4 linked regions of the Homo sapiens genome follow. The protein of the gene in region 4 purifies or fractionates together with the protein of the main gene of each other region. This does not show direct contact. Each region holds a gene or a part of one and is shown on either strand. Other genes may lie near its edges. The genes, in order: TUBA3C, ASPH, TXNDC11 and OLFM1.

What was found.
Region 1: the proteins of OLFM1 (region 4) and TUBA3C purify together in Homo sapiens (affinity purification with mass spectrometry, with the first as the bait; 3 studies listed by BioGRID). This does not show direct contact.
Region 2: the proteins of OLFM1 (region 4) and ASPH purify together in Homo sapiens (affinity purification with mass spectrometry; 3 studies listed by BioGRID and IntAct, with this or other methods). This does not show direct contact.
Region 3: the proteins of OLFM1 (region 4) and TXNDC11 purify together in Homo sapiens (affinity purification with mass spectrometry, with the first as the bait; one large-scale study listed by BioGRID). This does not show direct contact.

Annotation. Positions count from the first base shown.
Region 1 is NC_000013.11:19,173,272-19,176,048, forward strand, and holds the end of TUBA3C (tubulin alpha-3C chain), read right to left. Parts: intron 889-2,777; coding exon 592-888; 3' UTR 501-591; downstream 1-500. UniProt on the Homo sapiens protein: Tubulin is the major constituent of microtubules, a cylinder consisting of laterally associated linear protofilaments composed of alpha- and beta-tubulin heterodimers.
Region 2 is NC_000008.11:61,518,038-61,523,450, forward strand, and holds part of ASPH (aspartyl/asparaginyl beta-hydroxylase), read right to left. Parts: intron 87-5,413; coding exon 1-86.
Region 3 is NC_000016.10:11,731,028-11,736,440, forward strand, and holds part of TXNDC11 (thioredoxin domain-containing protein 11), read right to left. Parts: intron 5,207-5,413; coding exon 4,990-5,206; intron 3,053-4,989; coding exon 2,955-3,052; intron 1-2,954. UniProt on the Homo sapiens protein: May act as a redox regulator involved in DUOX proteins folding. The interaction with DUOX1 and DUOX2 suggest that it belongs to a multiprotein complex constituting the thyroid H(2)O(2) generating system.
Region 4 is NC_000009.12:135,107,083-135,112,495, forward strand, and holds part of OLFM1 (noelin isoform 4 precursor), read left to right. Parts: intron 1-5,413. UniProt on the Homo sapiens protein: Contributes to the regulation of axonal growth in the embryonic and adult central nervous system by inhibiting interactions between RTN4R and LINGO1. Inhibits RTN4R-mediated axon growth cone collapse.

The sequences.
Region 1 (2,777 bases), on a different chromosome or scaffold from region 4:
CTGAGGGGCAGAGTGGCCGTGTGTGTGCACGGAGGGCAAATGCTGTCTTCCAGGTTACTGTGGAAGGCTGGGTGTGTTGTAACCTTCTATGGGTCACGAATGCTGTGCAGAACACAGTAACACTCTTTCCCTTCTAAAATGTCCTGACCTTACACATTTGACCCACAGCTTTAGGGATTTCATGGACAAGCCCCATCCACAGACCTCAGATTTAAACACTCCATGTCTAGACTCTTCTTTGTAGCTCGCATCACCCATCAATAGAAAAGCCCCCAAAGTTGCAAATTCAGTTGAAAACCCTGACTGTGCTTTCCTAGAATTTAGGAAATCTATTTCTCCGTGTCAAGTTACTTCTGTGGCAGCTCCTTAAGTATGTACCATCCCGCTGCACCCAACTCCATGCTAGCAGGGCAGGCTGGCACCCCACCACTGTCCATGCAGGCTCTGGGGGTCCCACCTGCTCCTGCAGGCAAAGCTAGGCAGTACGATACACAGAGGTCTTGGTTTTATACAGAACCTTTAATTGCAAAGAACTTGAAAGCAGCCACGCTGGGGGTGGCAGTGGAGTGGAGAACCCACCACACCCTCCCCTCAGTATTCTTCACCTTCTTCAGCCTCGGCTTCCACGGAATCCACGCCCACCTCTTCATAATCCTTCTCCAGAGCTGCCAGGTCCTCGCGGGCCTCAGAGAACTCCCCCTCCTCCATGCCTTCTCCCACGTACCAGTGCACAAAGGCCCGCTTGGCATACATGAGATCGAACTTATGGTCCAGGCGAGCCCAGGCCTCCGCGATGGCCGTGGTGTTGCTCAGCATGCACACAGCCCGCTGCACCTTGGCCAGGTCTCCCCCAGGGACCACCGTGGGGGGCTGGTAGTTAATGCCCACCTGCCGGAGAAGAGGAAGAAACAGTCCATGAAGCTTATATCAAACCTGGAAATGGTGGCTGCTTTTCCTCAAAAAGAAGACACCCTGTAGGTGAACAGGAGAATTCTCAGTTCACCCCACAAATGTCACTAAGCCCTTCTCTGTGCCAGGCAGGGTGACAGTTCCAGACAACATATGTTGCCCAGGCTGGCCTCAAACTCCTGGGCCCAATCGATCCACCCACCCCAGCCTCCCAAAGTGCTAGGATTACAGTCATGAGGCAGCATGCCCAGCATTTTTTTTTTTTTTTAAGAATAAGGTATTTTCTAAAGGATTTTTGTGCCCCTTTCTTGGGTGGTAGAATTCATGTGGAAAAGGTAGGTTGAACTTAGTAATTTTATGGGCATTTTGGGGAATCTTGTAGGTGGTGTATATATTTTATTTTAACTTGGGCATTACTATAAACTGCTTCACAACATCATTCGTTCCACTGTCTCATGTAGGGTTTGATTTAAAAAAAGAATGAGTTGTTTGTGATGAAAACAGCAACAGGTGCAGTGGCTCACACCCATTATCCCAGCTCTTTGGGAGGCCAAGGTGGATTTCTTGAACTGAGTTTGAGACCAGCCTGGGCAGTATGGCAAGACCCTGTCTCTACCAAAAATACAAAAAAATTAGCTGGGCATGGTGTCATGCACCTGTGGTCCCAGCTACTCAGGAGGCTGAGGTGGGAGGATTGCTTGAGCCTGGAGGGCAGAGGTTCCAATGAGCTGAGATCCTACCACTCCTTGGGTGACAGAGCAAGACCCTGTCTCAAAAAAATTAAAAGGCCGGGCACGGTGACCCACACCTGTAATCCCAGCACTTTGGCAGGCCGAGGTGGACAGATCACGAGGTCAGGAGATCGAGACCATCCTAGCTAACATGGTGAAACCCGGTCTCTACTAAAAATACAAAAACAAAATTAGCCGGGTGTGGTGGCGGGCGCCTGTAGTCCCAGCTACTCGGGAGGCTGAGGCGGGAGAATGGCATGAACCCAGGAGGCGGAGCTTGCAGTGAGCCAAGATCACGCCACTGCACTCCAGCCTGGGCGACACAGCAAGACTCCGTCTCAAAAACAAAACAAAACAAAACAAAACAAAAAGCAGCAACGTCTTTATTTCTTTTCCGGGAAGCCTAGTAATTTTGGCCTGGGTTTGCCTCAGACACAAAATCTGTCCCCACCTTCCACTGACACAAAAGAAACCTTGCTGTCCTCTTTCAGCTTTATCAATAGTTGGTTACTAAATCTTGTGGCATTTCTCTGTTGGGCCTGTGCGTTCTTGTGCTGTGCTTTCCCTGCTGCCTCTGGCTCAGACCCCCACCGTCTCTGTTGGGGGAGACCACTGCAGTCAGTTCTGACTGGGATTTCCTACTGTGGGTGTCTCTTCTTCTCCTTCAGGGGTTAGCACAGCTGCTGGACTAGCCACCTAATTTTGTAAGATCTTGTCTGAACACAGCCACCACACCCCTTCATTTGCAGATTGATTTTGCTATCCGACAGCAGAGTGGGGTAGGTGTGACAGAGGTCGTGTAACCTGTAAGGCCTAGAATTTGTATGATCTTGTCTTTTTTTCTTTTTTTGAGACAGAGTCTTGTGCTGTCACCCAGGCTGGAGTGCAGTGGAGTGATATCTTCTCACTGCAACCTCCACCTCCTGGGTCCCAGTGATTCTCCTGCCTCAGCCTCCTCAGTAGCTGGGATTACAGGTGCCCGCCACCATACCCGGCTAATTTTTGTATTTTTAGTAGACACGGGATTTTGCCCTGTTGGCCAGGCTGGTGTCAAACTCCTGACCTCAGGTGATCCGCCTGCCTTGGCCTCCCAAAGTGCTGGATTATAGGCATGGGCCACCATGCCCATCCAATTTT
Region 2 (5,413 bases), on a different chromosome or scaffold from region 4:
TCTTCTGCATCCTGTTGTCTCGGGGAACTTTTCTAGTAAGGTACAGGTTTTAGGAGCTCCTTTGCAGGCATTTTCATTTCTTCTTCCTAGAATAAATAACATAATTGTTGGAAACAAATCACAGTAAAGCTTAAACTTATCCCATTTAGATGAGGTGAGAGCTATATGTCATCCTCACTGCAGGAATGAGAAGATTGAGTAAACATGAGAAGATGAAGTAGGAATGCAAAAGGCTTATTGGAAATAAATAAAAATTTATCAATAAAGAAGACGTGTCTTGCTCCAATAGGTAGTGACTGGCAGAGCAGGGATCCAAATTCTTCACTCGGTGTTGGACTATTTGACTAAGAATGTCTAACAGACAAGACACAGGTTAAAGGCCTTTGACCTTGAATAACACAGGGATTAGGGGCTTCGATCCTCCATGCATGTTAAGTTTTGACTCCCCAAAAACTTAACAACTAATAGCCTACTGTTGACTGGAAGCCTTACCCTATATCATAAATAGTTGATTAACATATTTTGTATGTTATATGTATTCTATACTATAGTCTTACACTAAAGTAAGCTGAAAAAAAGAAAATGGTATTAAGAAAATAATAAGGAAGAGAAAATACTTTTACAGTACTGTACGGTATTTTATCGATACCATAAGTTTACATCATCTGTTTACAAGATGAATTGAATGTCTGAAATGGCCTGCAACTACAGGTACAGACCTTAATCTACAGTACATATCAATCAATTCAACTTTTTCTTGTAGGGTCATGACTTTTCTCTGCTTCTTGGCAGCGTGTCCATCATCATTAGTTGCTCTTTGTATAGGTCCCATGGTGTTATTCGAGGTTTGCAGCATTGCATTAAACACAAGGAAAAATACACAAGAACCATAAGAGACCACTTTTCACCGTGATATGCAATTTACCAGAGAGAGGAACTGCTCACATGGAGACGACAGTATCACATGGTATTTTAAGCAGATACTGAAAACACTTGAGCTTGCCGAATAGCAACAGGAAGCAGCTATGAAATTATTACAGTAGTATAATCTGTACTACAGTTAATTTAATGGAGTTATGATTTAACACTGCATCTTCATGTTTGTTTACATTTCTCTTGACTATGAATGGTGCTATGTATGGTCTGTAAGTGCTTCCATGCATATGTTGATAAATTTTATTTCTTTATAATAGATTTGTATATATATAGTAAATGATACAATAGATTAGTACCTATATATATTTCATGCATTCATGACATACCTAATTTTTCTTAATTTTAAAAAATATTTCCAGGCTATAAGGTTCATCTGCAAATTTTTTTCAGATTGCCACAAATCTCAAAAAAATTTCCAATATATTGACAAAAATTCTTACATAAGCGGACCCATAACATTCAAATTCACGTTGTTCAAAGGCCAACTGTACTTATTTTTTCCCCTGTGACAGGAAAAATAATAGTTAGCTCCCAAAAGATGTCCATACCCTCATCCCATAACCTGTGAATATGTTGTCTTTCATGCAAGAGGGAATTAAGGCTGTAAGTGGCACTGAGATTTCTTATCAGCTCACATTAAAATAGGGAGATTATCCAAGATTACCTGGATGGGCCCAAGGTAATCACAGCATCCTTAAATGTGGGAGGAGGCAGATGAGTAAGTGTCAGAGTGATACAGTATGAGAAAGACTTGACTGGCCACTGCTGGCTCTGAAGATGGAAGGGGGCCACAAGCCGGGGAATGTGGGCAGCCTCTAGAAGCTGGAGACTCCAGAGGGAATACAGCCCTGGTGACACTTGTATTTTAGCTCAGTGTGATCTATTGTAGACTTCTGACCTCTAGAACTATAAGATAATAAATGTGTCTGTGTTTTAAGCTATTAAGTTTTGTGGTAATTTGTTACACCAGCCACAGGAAACTAATACATCCCCTAAAGAAGGAAAATAGCTTATATTATATTTCTAACTTAGAAATGCATTTCTAGGACTATATTAGTTGCCAAAACACTATTTTTATTGGACTTCAATGTCTTTTCCATATCCAGATCATCCTTTATATGATGATAAAGAATAGGATTTAAATGAAGAAGGCGTCTTTGAGAGGGGACATATTCTATGATTAACTGTCAAGAGCACAGATTCTGGGACATGTCATTTAAGTATCCTGAACTATGCAAATTTCTTTACACTCTATAAAGCCCCTGCTTATTAGGGAAGATGTGCTCAGAATGTACACAATGTCATCTGCTCTAACGGGGGAGTAAAACAATGGGATTTTTAAAAGTCAGAGACATTTTAATTCCCTATTCAAGATTCCTAAAAGAGACTGCTACATCTAAAGCTGAGTTTAATTTTATTTAATTAATGTTAATTGTGTCCTAAGATAATCACATACTGAGAATAAAATAAGAGTTACAAAAAACGCAACTAAAAGGTATTCACCCCAATCAAATGGAGCTCAATGTTTTAGAAAACAACTTAGCTTTTTCTAAGTAACCTTTTTGGCTCTTAATTGAATAAAATGTTAATTGCTATTTTTAGTTATTAATGGAGTTCCCCAAATGAACAATAAATGTCAGTTTGGGTGAATATTACATAAACCTACGAGTCACCGTAAAGTGTTTTTGAGCCTGGGCTTTCCAAGTCTTCTGGTATGCAGGGCCTGGGGCTGCTTGGCAGGAGTCCCCAATTCTGAGCTCTGTGCTGTCCAGGCAGCAGTTAAGTGAAACTGGTGGCTTGGGGAACAACCATAGGTGGCCTGGAGTTCTCACAAGCACCAGGTGGCTGAGCATGTGCTACCTGGAGAACAGATGTGCCTTACCTGAATGACAGGTGATGAATGGGTAACCAAATGGGTTGTGTCCCTGAGATTTTCAAGGAATTAGAGAACACCTCTAGCTCTTTAGACACATTTATCTTTCTGGTCTGTAAACCCAGATTCTCTGTGCAGTAGACTCTGGGCATTCATGCACTGTCACTGGTCATTTTAACTCTTCACGTCTGATCATGAGGGTCCAAGGAATGCAACGGCAGTTCCTTGATGCTCACGACAGGCCAGGAACCACTCTGCATGATGAGAGTGCCTCATTTGATGTCTACAACATGTCATAAGAAGGCTCAATTAGTGTTGTATTTTATAGAAAGGCAATTGAGCCACAGAGGGGTCACATAGCGAACAGCAGAGCAGGAATTTCAATTCAGCCAGACTGGACCCAGTGTTCATGCTCTTAACCAGACCAGAGACCACCTCTCCACTACTGTTATTACATCATGTGCTATTGTTAGACCATAAAAATATAATATTACTATCATATATTGGATAACTGTGCCAAGTCTTTCATCTAGTGCTCACTGATCCTAGTAACAACCCCATACTTGAGGCACTATTTGCCATTTTTCAGATGAGGGATTTGAAGCTCAGAGATTCAGGGACATGCACACATCACACAGCTAACAAGCGGTGCATCCAGGACTCTAACCTAGGATTGTTGGTTTCCAAAGCCTATGCTTTAAAGCATAATTTCTCATTTTGTTGCATTGTAAGTTAGAAGGCAGCTGTGCAGGAGCAAACCAGTTAACTCAGCCTGAAGAGGAATGCCCAGCATCTGCAACTCACTGTGGCTTTGTTGTCGTTTGATTATTTCTCACCAGCGTTAAACTAACCCTCAAGAAGTAATAAACCTTGCTTCTTTGGGAAAATAGCTCTAGAAAGAGATCTAACAGCCAATGCAAATCTGGAAGAATCATTTAAATTTATCACTTCTTACACATGAATATACTTTGTGAGGGCTATTCATGGAACTGATATCCTGGGTTGTATCTTTTATAAATTTCAAGGCTCTGCTTCTGGGGCAACAACAGGTTCCATCTTGCATGACAATTCTGATCAGTTGCTAGCAGCCACCTAGAACACTGCGTTGAGAAGGACTTAGAGGTTCAGCCTCAGCTTATTCAGAAAGGCTGTTGGGGTCAGTTAGCACCTTTCCCATGGGCTCTGGAAGAAAAAAATGACTGCACATGTGTGGCATATTTTAATCACTGTTGGTGGCACTTATTAAGATAAGAGCAAAATAGACGTTCCATAATATTCACATAACAATTTAAAAAGTTATTTTTGGGGAACAAAATCATTATTTATATTTGCTGATTCTGGTTTTTTCCTTCAACTCTAAAAAGCCAGTCCTTTAAAAAAACATAGTTCAGTCCTAATGAAACTACTTGGATACTGTATCAGTTCGCTAGGGCTGCCACAAGCAAATACCACAGACTGAGTGGCTTAAACAACAGAAGTGTATTTTCTCACAGTTCTGGAGGCTGAAAGTCCAAAATTAAGGTGTGGCCAGGCTTGGTTTCTCCTGAGGCCTCTTTTCTTGGCTCCTAGGTGGCCACCTTCTTCTTGTGTCCTCACACGTCATTTTCTCATCCCTAGTGATATGGTTTGGCTGCATCCCCACCCAAATCTCATCTTGAATTATAGTTCCCATAATCCCCATGTGTCATGGGAGGGACCAGGTGGAGATAACTGAATCATGGGGGTGGTTTTCCCCATCCTGTTCTCATGATAGTGAGTTAGTTCTCACGAGATCTGATGGTTTTATAAGGGGCTTCCCCCTTCACTTGGTACTTATTCTCTCTCCTGCTGTCCTGTGAAGAGGTGCCTTCCACCATGATTGTAAGTTTCCTGAGGCCTCCCCAGTCATGTGGAATTATGTGTCAATTAAACCTCTTTTTGGTATAAATTACCTAGTGTTTCTTCATAGCAGTGTGAGAACAGACTAACACACCCAGTGTTTCTTCCGCTTCTTATCAGGGAATCAGTTATATTGGGTCAGGGCCTCATCCTTATGACCTCATTTAATCTTAACTATCTCCTTAAAGGCCCTATCACCAAATACAGTCACACTGGGGGTTAGGGCTTCAACATATGAATTTTGCGGGGTACACAGTTCAGTCCATAGAAGAGACCTACCGTAATTTTACTTCCCAAAACTTCCAGCATCAGCCTTAGGCATTCGACTACCCAGCAGCATGATTTGCTAACTAGACAACGGCTAAATCTTTACTGAGCCAGATATTCATCACCTTTTTCTCTGAATCTGAGTTCTCAATGTGGCTAAGCAAACTGGTCACTCACCTCCCTCCCTATGACGTCCGCCCCTGTCCCTTCCACTCCAGAATTCTTCTCCTCTATTTCTGAACCACAGCACCTGACATGGATGCCATCCTGCTTCAGCATAAGCTACGATAGTACTTGCCATCACACTTATTATTTTCTTTCTTTCTTTCTTTTTTTTTTTTTTTTTGACAGTCTCGCTCTGTTGCCCAGGCTGGAGTGCAGTGGCATGATCTCGGCTCACTGCAATCTCTGCCTCCTGGGTTCAAGTGATTCTCCTACCTCAGCCTCCCGAGTAGCTGG
Region 3 (5,413 bases), on a different chromosome or scaffold from region 4:
GCCAAACAAGGAACATTTACTCTTATCTCTGAAAAAAAAATTAATTCCCACAGTAGTTCTTTTAAAAACAAAACAGAGAGACAACCCTGGAAATTGACCACATGCTAAGGGATTCCAGGATTTAACTATACAATTCAACGCAGGCGGGCAGACTTTCCTTCTACTAGTCACTGTGAGGTAAGGGACAGGTTGAACAGTCAGCCCTTGGCCTACTAAAAAGAAACAGGCAGACAAAGGATCACTGAATGAACCTTAAACCTATTTGAAGCTTTATTACAACAATAACAAATTATGTGAAGGTCTGAAGTCAGTGACCTGTTTAAATAATCTTTCTTCCTTTCCCCTCCAGTTGTGCCTGGGGACACATAGAATTGGATTCAGTGCCGCTAAGTGATACCACCACTATTCAGTTATCCTCCTAAGCTAATCAGAATTCTCACGTGCCTCTCTTCAGTCTCACACAATACAGACACTGCCCAAATATAATTGGATGGTAGGTGGCAAGGGTTGGGGGGTTATGGTGAAATTCAACAACTGCATAATCGTTCTTTTCTCTAAACAGAAATTGACATTAAGCTTACTGTTAACAGCAACAAGAGCCCAGTGAAGAATTTTATAAAGGCTGTGATTATAATACCATAATACATGGTTACAGAAATTCACACACACACACACACACACACACACACGTGATGGGATAAACACAATTCTTCCATGTGCACTGCAGAATGATGTTAAAGGAATATTAGCATGAAAAAAAGTGAAAAACAGCGTTCTCTACATGTACAGCTGGGACACAGTTAATAATTCTACCAAATCAAGACTTACTACAAATTAGTTCCGTTTAAAAATTACCACCACCACCAACCCCATCAACCACCAATAATTTTTAATTTAAAGGAAGAAATCAAAAAAGCATCTAACTTATTTTGTTCCAGAAAAAGGAGCTACCAATCTGGAAACCTCAACCACTCAGGCCAAGAGGCTTTGATGAGTTTTCCTGTTGTGATGTTACAAGGGTTCTAGTGACTTGTAAAAGCTAACAATGCAAAGACAGGGGTGTGGAGGCGGGCATTTCAAGGTGCGTACCACCTCAAATTCCTCATCTGTAAAATAAGAAGGTTGGACACATTTCTAAAGTTCCTTTGAGGTCCCTTCAATCTTTCTGCAAAAGCTAAGCAAGCAAATAGTATATATATGACAATACTGTATACCTGCATATCCCAAAATGACACTTGTACTTGATTCCATGGAACTCTTCTGATTTTAATGTCACATCACGTTATGTCCACCTCTGAGCAGTCTGAAAGGACTACACCCCCCCACTAGGCTTCCATGCCTTTTTTCAAAGCCAAAAAGAAATGCAAGGACCTCAGCAGGGCAAGCTCACCATCCCGTTACAGAGCACAGAGTTAAGTACACCACCTTACACTTACCTTTAAAACAAAAACAGTAACTCTGAGAAAGTATTCCTGTATCCGAAAAAACCTGTACTTGAACCTTCCATGTAAAGGCAGAACCTCCAAGTTACTGGCCAAAAAGTGGGGAAGAAATCTGAAAATGGTCTTAGTGGTCCCTAAGCAAAAACTGGCTTCTTACTACAAATATTAAAATACAAACATCTAATATCCAGAGGAAAATGTGGGGGTAGAGATGGGGTAGAAAAGTGTGTTTTTGCCCAAATACTACCTAATAGTTCCTGGGAGTCAATACTATGTGCCAGACAACAGTTTATGTTACAGACACGGAAATGGGATGGAATGTGACAGAGAACCCACAAATCACTGTTTGTGCATGTTTGCTATAAATCCCCATTGATTATGGCCCAAGAACTTTAGAAGGAAAAAGGAAAGCTCTCTACTGATCAAATCTCCTTTACCCATTTTACTTTCAACAAACTTCAAGCCAATCACCCTGAACAAAGTCCAAAGTCCTATCTCCTATCTCCAAAACTCTTTGAGTCAGATTTTTAGACATTACTTATCATTCACAGCAGGGTCTGGGCTGTACTCTAGTACAGCCTAGGTCGAGACCAGCCTGGCAACATGGTAAAACCCCGTCTCTACTAAGAATACAAAAATTAGCCGGGCGTGGTGGCAGGCACCTGTAATCCCAGCTACTCGGGAGGCTGAGGCAGGAGAACGGCTTGAACCCTGAGGCGGAGGCTGCAGTGAGCCGAGATTGCACCACTGCACTCCAGCCTGGGCAACAAAAGCTAAACTCTGTCTCAAAATAAAATAAAATAAAATAAGATAAAATAAAACTCTTTCCGTTTTTCAGCCCTCTTTGTGACTTTAGAATTGTGGACATGGGCGGTAAAACCCTGTCTCTACTAAAAATACAAAAAAAATTAGCTGGGCAGGGAGGTGGGTGCCTGTAGTCCCAACTACTTGGGAGGCTGAGGCAGGAGAATGGCGTGAATCCGGGAGGCCGAGCTTGCAGTGAGCGGAGATCGCGCCACTGCACTCCAGCCTGGGCAACAGAGTGAGACTCCGTCTCAAAAAAAAAAAAGAATTGTGGACATGGGACTGTGTACTTGTAGTAATTTTCTTCCCAATAGAATAGATGGTAAGATACACTCTGGACTCTGCTATGCCTCCAGATGAAACGATAAGAAATTTTGTGTATTTTTACAAAACACTCTTACGATATCTGAAATGCATTGGAGTAATTCGTACTTTTAAAAACAATGCTGTAAAATGTGTAATGACATGAAAAGATGCTCAAAAAAGTGAGAAAAGCAGTTTAGGAAATAGTATTACTGCCTGATCCCATGTTTAGCTTTAAAAAGGGGGGTGGATTATCCAGATCTTTCTTTTTTAATTTTTGCTTATCTGTATTATCTGAATTTTCTATAGTGAATATCTAATACTTTAATATAGAAAAAATGCAAAATTCATTTATAAACTGGCAAACTAAACTGGAATGAGAGACGCTATTTAAAAAGTTCTTACCTCCGATGATACAGATATATTACAGGAAAATAAAAGAAGTGTTTCTGTTTTCTGCATTTCCCCTGGTTCCACCAACAGTTAATTGCCACAAACAACACCTGCAGAGCCAAAAAAGGTTTTCAAATGACTATGAATAACAACTGAAAAGTTACCAAGATTTAAAAGATGAAATTTAAAAATAGAATGATTCCTCTCTCACTGAAACAGAAACTATGAAAAAAACTGTTTTGAGTTTTCAAAGGTCATAATTTATCACTAAAACAAAAAAGAAAGACATACTCTTATCTATGATGTCCAGGCAGGACTTGGACCGTGTTTACCAATCTTACCATGCAATACAGTTCAAAAGATTTCTGTGTGTTTCCAAAAATAAACCCACTTTTTTCCCTACTGAGTACATGGAATAGTAAGCTCTCAATTTGGAAGGAGCTGAAATTTTTTTTTTAAAAAAAGCAGCAGTCCCTGGATTGCACTACAACCCCCACCACTACGTGATGGTAAACAAACTGCTTCACCCCTTATGCCTGCAGTCCTGCTTCAGAAAAACAGGGCTGACAGCATCGCCTTGCAAAGTGGTTGAGAATTGGCATGGGGCCTGGCACACCAGAATATCATTATTATTATACTAATGCCATCACTCAGAAGGACATACTGCTTAGGCTGACAGTAAGGTAGCTAATTCACACTTATTAATAAAACACAATAGATATCCCTCTTGTGCCCAACATGGGCAACGTGAACTTTGTTCTCTAAATTTGGAAGGCTCCACAGTTTCTAAGAAAAACCAAATGACAGTTCCAAATGAACTTCTGGAACTCAGCTGCCTACACACGTTACTTCACATCAGTGGTTCTGAGCAGGAGAGTCTTAGAAATCTGTGGGATGCTTTTGGCTTGCTACAATGACTGGGGGAAGCTACAGTGCATACGTAGGGCAGGGGTGTTGGTAGATGTCCTGCTACACTCAAACCTGCTTTGCACACGGAAGAGTCGTCCATAGCATTCCAGAGGAGTTCAAAACGCCTGCCAAACACTGATGTTGGGGAAAACCTGTTATTATCAAAGCCCAGTACCTAGCTCCATTTTACATGTGAATCTAAAGCATGCTTTTTGTGTTCACTGAATTTTTCAGGAATGCAACTTCTATGTAAACTGAGAGCAGAAAGGGCTTTGCATAGTTCAGGATTTTACCAAGACTGTTCACCATTTAGGATAATCAATTACTAAGAGCAATGTCCATGTGGCAGGTAAGTCACCAACATATCACCTTTATCAGTCTACGTTTGTAACTATCCCATTCAGTGATTCTACATAAAGGTATATGGACCTGTTCTGACTGTGCACTTACATACTAAAATATATATCATTTAGTTACAAATTACTTTCTTCCCCCCTCACCTCTATGTTACAATCCGTGCATTAGATTATTTTGAAATTACATGTATAGGAAAACTTTATCATCTATGAATTCCTTTTTAGGAAGAAAAAGGGACATCATAAAATACTTATTTTCTAAAGCACAACTGGGGTCCACTGGGCTGAAAACCACTGCCATAACAGGTGACTTATTTGCCTATATATCTTTCTTACCTAGCCCAAAGGTGGCATTCCTTATCTGCTGAATATAGTTCTGGTCCATATATTAAAAAGGTCGGCCTTGTTACAATGCAGTCATATCATACATACATTTTCTTACCTAAAATACCTAACTAGCAAGTATCAAATGGATATGCAAGAACTAGGATTTTCAGTCCCTCTACCTTTTTCAATGCTGAAACCAAACAGTATGGCACCCCAGGATAAGCATTGGCTTGTGTTATGAGATTCAGAATCTGCTCCCACACTTGCCTTGGAGTACAATCGCCACAATTGGAAATCCTTTCTGTTGCTTTATAGAAAGCTCTGTAACTTAGAAACGACTCCTGGAGTTCACCTTGGCAAAGTCTGCCCGTTGGGCAAGGTGTCTCTGTGGGGACATCCTGCCCTACATATAGGACTGACAGTCATTTGATTCTTAAGCTGAATGTGAGCATTACCTGATCTGAAAGCCGACTTGCTGCTTGCTCAATTTCTGCCCTGGCAGCGATGGACTGTCCACACCAAGGGGCATAGAAGAAGAGCAGTACCACCTCTGAATCCCGTCGAACGTACTCTGCATAATCCAGCTGCCCCTGGAAGAGGTCAAGGACTGGAGACCTCAAGGAGAAAAAGCTGACAGGTGGCTTTGCTGGTATTATCACATCTTTTGCTCGACTAAAAAAGAGCAAACACAGAAAAGATTGCTTAGTTTATCTTCTTCTAAAAATAGCTCTGTGGAAGTAGAATGAAGCTTAAAAGGAAAATCCTCTTTTGAATAAGAAAATGGAGTCCCAAAATCACTGCCCTAGAAAGGCAACATCTGGCTGAGCAAATGCAAGACATGAATAATACGTTGGAAACAATTCTCTGAGATTCTGTCCC
Region 4 (5,413 bases):
ATCCCATGACATGGCTGTAGACCCCTTCAAGGCCTCCTCCCCGGCCCGGTGGGCTGGGCTGGGCTGGGCTGGGCTGGGCTGGGCTGGGCTGGTGCCCCAAGTCCATTTCTCTGGAGCCGAAACCCAGCCCTGACTTTTCCGGTCCTTGCATCTGCTTCAGGAAGAGAATTCATTAGGCCTTTCTTGTTTTAATGACATCTCATTTGTATTTCATTTGCCATTCCTTTCATGGCTGATGGAGACTCATGTTCCTTTTGATTTAGGAAAGAGGCCATGTTCTTTTTTCCCAGGCTTTTCCCCGCTGGGTGAAACCTCAGAAGAGGAGAGAGAAACAGGCATCATATTTGCCTTTATCTGGGGGGCTGGGTTTTATGTTCGAGCCCCTTTGAAAAATGGGGAGGTGAGGGTGGCTGCCCGACTGATGGTGAGGCCCGGCCTCGCTCGGCCCCTGGGCCCCAGACCCCTGTATACAGGCAGCATGGGCTTGTAGACTCCCTCCAAAGTGAGCACCCTCTGAAGGCTCTCGATGGGGGAGGGAAGCTGTCAGGGCTTCGCTGTCCCTTGATTTGCAAACTGACCTCTGGCTGCCAGAGTGGGCATTTCTCACCCAGCAACCCCTTCCTTCAGGGGTTTGCAGGACACTTAGAAAATAAACACTTAAAAACAAACAACCCAGCTCTGCCCTGGGCCGACTGAGAAAGGCCCTTTGAAATGTGAGATCCTCTAAGCTTTATCTGGAGCGGGTTTGAAGGAAGGGATGGACCCAGCTCTCTCCCCTCTGATTTCTGATCTCTTTGCCTCCCTCCTTCACCATTGCCACCATTTCCACGAAATCTCTTATATTTAAAACATGGGCGGTACGGCCTCTGGCACACTCCTTCCTTCCAGGAAGATGGCTGGGGAGGGGAGGGGGACTGGCAGACTTGCTAGAGCCTGTTGCATGTGTCTTGATCCCCCAGCCTCGCATGGGAGTGGCCCCCGCCCCCATCTGGAAGGGCTGGCCAGACTGCAGAGCCGGGATACAATTGGTGTTGGGTGTTTGTCAGGGAGGTTTTTCTGTCCTGTTTTCTAAATTGTGACAGCTGAGGCTTGGAAGTTTTCTAACAATTTAATTAGCTGTGAAGACTCTGACCACTCTTTTATTCCACATCCCACCTGGAAAACCCCACTTATGTTCAGAGTTAGGAACTTGCTCCTGCCACAGATGTTTTTGTAATGATCATAATACAGAAGAAAACAAGGTGATGCTGGCAGGCACTTAGAAAGCAGGCCCGGGCACAGTGGCTCACACCTGTAATCCCAGCACTTTGGGAGGCTGAGGCGGGCGGATCACCTGAAGTCAGGAGTTTGAGACCATCCTGGCCAACAAGGTGAAACCCCATCTCTCTAAAAATGCAAAAATTAGCCAGGCGTGGTGGCGTGCACCTGTAATCCCAGCGACTCCGGAGGCTGAGGCATAAGAATCGCTTGAACCTGGGAGGCAGAGGTTGCAGTGAGCCGAGATCATGCTACTGCACTCCAGCCTGGGTGATAGAGCGAGGCTCTGTCTCAAAAAAAAAAAAACAAAAAAAACAGCGAGTGTGTCCTGTGTGCAGGTGCTGTCCAAAGCACTTTCTTTTCATGCATTAACTCCCTTAATAGCGGGGGAAGGACGGGGCCTTCATGCAGCCATCTGCGTGCCCTTCCTGCTTTGTCCTCCCTGGGACCTGCCTGCGTCGGGGTCATTGGCATCTCAGTGTGGATGACAAGACTGTTCTCACGCCCAGAGGCAGAAGGGTCTCAGGATCATGGAGTGCCTGTCTGCAGCATGCACTGACACTCCAAGCCGAGTCCCTTATACCACCCTCCCCCTACAAGTGCCCTTCCCACACCTCCCCGCAATCTGGCCCACCCCACTATGCAGAGCAGGAAAACCACCCCACAAACCCACGCTGACCACATTGAGATCTGTGAGCAGGAAGCAGTCACCTCCCTGCTGCAGAGGGCAACCCCAGGGCTGGACTGCTCTGTCTGTATCTAACACCCCCCAGGACTGGACTGCTTTGTCTGTACCTTACACCCCCCAGGGCTGGACTGCTCTGTCTGTATCTAACGCCACACGTGTGTGCCTCTTGACTTCTGTTTTTGTATCACCTTCCTTTGTCGTAGGGAGCACTAGTCAAGTTATCGTTTTTCTAGGTACCAAGGATCTGGGGCTCCTGGAAGCCCCGGCTGTTTGCTTTGCACAGCGCAGCGAGGGTGTGGGTTTGCAAAGCTGTCGCGGTGCTGATGGATGCTTTTGATCATTAGGCATCTATTTTCTGCTTGATGACTGGATCGCCCTCCAGGAAAAGAGGCTCTGATGGTGGGTAGAGTGTGGGGAGAAGAAGCCGCAGGAGAAGGGATCCCTGGCAAGGGGGTGGGGGAGATGGGTGCTGGGGCTGGCAGAGGAGCCACCCGGAGCCTGCTCAGAGCACCCTCGGCTACGGCCATTCCAAGCCATACGCTCAGCACAGCCTCCAACTCCCAGTGTGCTAAGTGACATGTCCCCAGGTCCTGTCATTGATCTAGGCCAGCCGTGGTTTGTTTGTTTTGATCTTTTCCAATCTCCCATTCAGTTTTGATCACACACACAGGAGCCCAATAACTCGCTCCAAAAAAAAAAGAAAAAGAAATCAATGTCGGCTTCAGTGCAGGCTGCCACGGAGGGCATTGTAAGGCAGGTGTGGCCAAGGGCAGAGGGGAGAGGTTCAATGGGGCTGCCTAGTAGAGAGCCCGGCTCAGGGGGACCTGCAGAATCTCTGTGTTCGTGTGACCACAGGAGGGACGGTCCTGAGCCAGCTTCAGGGCCTTGCTAAGCTGTCAGAACAAGGTTAGCTTGGGACGCCTTTGCAGCAGGTCTTTCTGGATTCATTTATTAAGCACTGACTGTATGTCCGGCCTGTGCTGAGCACTGAGAGCCCCCAAGTTCTTCTCAGCAGGAAGCCACCCCTGCGCTTCCCAGGGCACCGGGCCCCACAGCCCCTCCTTTCCTTCCCGCCCGTCCCATTGCCTCAGTGTTGGAGGAGGGAAGGGCTGTGTGGAGGTTGGCCAGCTCTCAACCTGATGCGTGAATGCCCTGCCAGGCTGTGTTCCCACCCACTGGGAGACCACATGAGTTCTGGGACCCCTTCCCCAGCTCGGAGGCTTCTGGCCTGCTCTGACCATGGCCTGCCTTCCAGAGCCCAACATCTGCCTCCTCCTTTCTGACCCGCTTCCTATAAAAGTCTCAGGTCAGCTCACATCAGACACCAGACACCAAAAAGGGGGCCAGCGCTACTCCCACCACCCCAGGAAGTTCATGTTTGAAGGGGTGATATAATTAGGAAAACACTGTCATTTACAAACAGCAGCAAGCTTAGCTTAGCGTTTCAAAGTCCTTTCCCATCATCTAAACAGCGTCAAGGCCATCTAGATATTTTATAAGGATCCCACGGAATCTTTTTTTCCAGAAGGTGGAAATATCCAAAATGCATAAAACCGTGTGGGTGCAGGCAGTGATCCGCCCGCCGCCAGTGGTGCAATAAACATCAACGCCCCTTCCAGTCACTTCTCAGTGTGAGGAGGGACCTTCCCAGGACCGAGAACCGTTGTCTGTTCCCCTTCAGCCTTCACTCCCCAAGTGGAGCCTCCGGCAGAAACTGCCAGCATCCCCCCCACCTCTTTCCCACCACCCATTCAGCTACGGGCCGCTTTAGAGTGTCTTTTCCAGCGGCCCAGGCTCCTTGATGTTAGGAATTCTGTCAGGACGACATGTGACAGATGCTTGCCAAACCAAAGGGAAGTGCCAGCGCGGGCCCAAGTCCCTACGCCAAGACCCCTTAAATAGCATCCGCTTCCCACTTCCCGGGGGCTGCATCAGAGGCATTTGGGACGGCAGTGCCAGATCTGTGCCCATCGTCCAGCTCTACCCTGAACCGAGAGGCCCTCTTCACTGGGAAGCTGATGAAAGTAATCGGGACAGTTAGGAAAATCCCACGTTCTCAGTAAACTGCACCACATGTGGCTGAAATGCGGTGCAGAGGTTCAGACAGCCAGTTTTTCTTATATGGGAAGCTGTGTTGGGCCTCGGTTTCGGAGAAGCCTGGTCCCCTGAAAGCATGGTATTTACAAATGCATTTTGTGTTTGCGTGAGAAGGAAGAACCCACCCGTTGCTTTATCTTTTCCGGCAAAGAAACCCTCATGGGTTGGGGAGGGGATTTGGGCAGGAACTTGGGGCCTTCCAGCCTGTGTCGTCGAATTAGAGTGAGGCTGTGCTCGGGGCAGGGTGGCCTCGCTCGCCGTCTGGCCGCAGGCTCTCAGGGACTGTAGCGCATGGCCCATTGAACTGGAGAAGGATGATCAGTGTGCGAGACCTCCACGACCCCCAGGAGGCCTGAGTCCAGCCCTGACCCCCTGCTTTTCCTAGATCTCGGGGCTGGGAATCTGAACTTTCCTGCCTGTGCTGAGGGTGGGTGTGTTGCGGAGCTTGGGGACATCAGATGTCACCAGTGAGCTCCTGTGTGGGGTCCCTGTGGGTGGCGTGGTTCAGAGCTGGGCACAGAGGTTCGGAGCTGCTCCACACTGGAGTCTGCGTCTCTCTGCTGCCCCTCCCAGCTCTGTGACCTTTAGGATATTCTTTTTTTTTGAGACGGAGTCTTGCTCTGTCGTCAGACTGGAGTGCAGTGGTGCAATCTCAGCTCACTGCAACCTCCGCCTCCCGAATTGAAGCAATTCCCAGGCCTCAGCCTCCCGAGTAGCTGGGATTACAGGCGCATGCCATCACTTCCGGCTATTTTTTTTCTGTGTGTTTTTTAGTAGAGACAGGGTTTCACCACATTGGCCAGGATGATCTCCATCTCCTGACCTCATGATCCACCTACATCGGCCTCCCAAAGTGCTGGGATTACAGGCGTGAGCCACCACGCCCAGCCAGGACATTCTTAACCTTCTGTTCCTTGGGGTCATGATCAGAAAGGGCACACCTGCACAGGGGGCTCTCAGCATACGTTGTGGGGGCAGCACCAGTGGCTCTAATACACCAGGTTTCAGCTCATGGCACACAGCAGCCCGTCCAGCTGTGAATGGAGAGCAGTTAGGTCAGGGAGGGACATGCACTGGCCGCTGATCGCCAAAAGGGCTCCATGGAAAGACGGCACCAGGGGCCACCCGCCCTGTGGGGCTCTCAGTTGGGAGAGGCACCTGCAGAAGAGTCTCTGGTCTCTGCTGTCTAAGGTCCCTGTTCCCTCCAGGCTGCACTGGCCTTCTGTTCCCAGAATGTTCTCTCTGGTCTCCCCTTCCTATGCCTGGGGAACCCCAAGATTCTTCCAGCACGAGGATTTTTGCGTGGAGCCATGGCCCCTCATGAGGTCAGAAGCTTTGGGAGGACAGGGCCTGTGTCCCCAGCACCTGGAA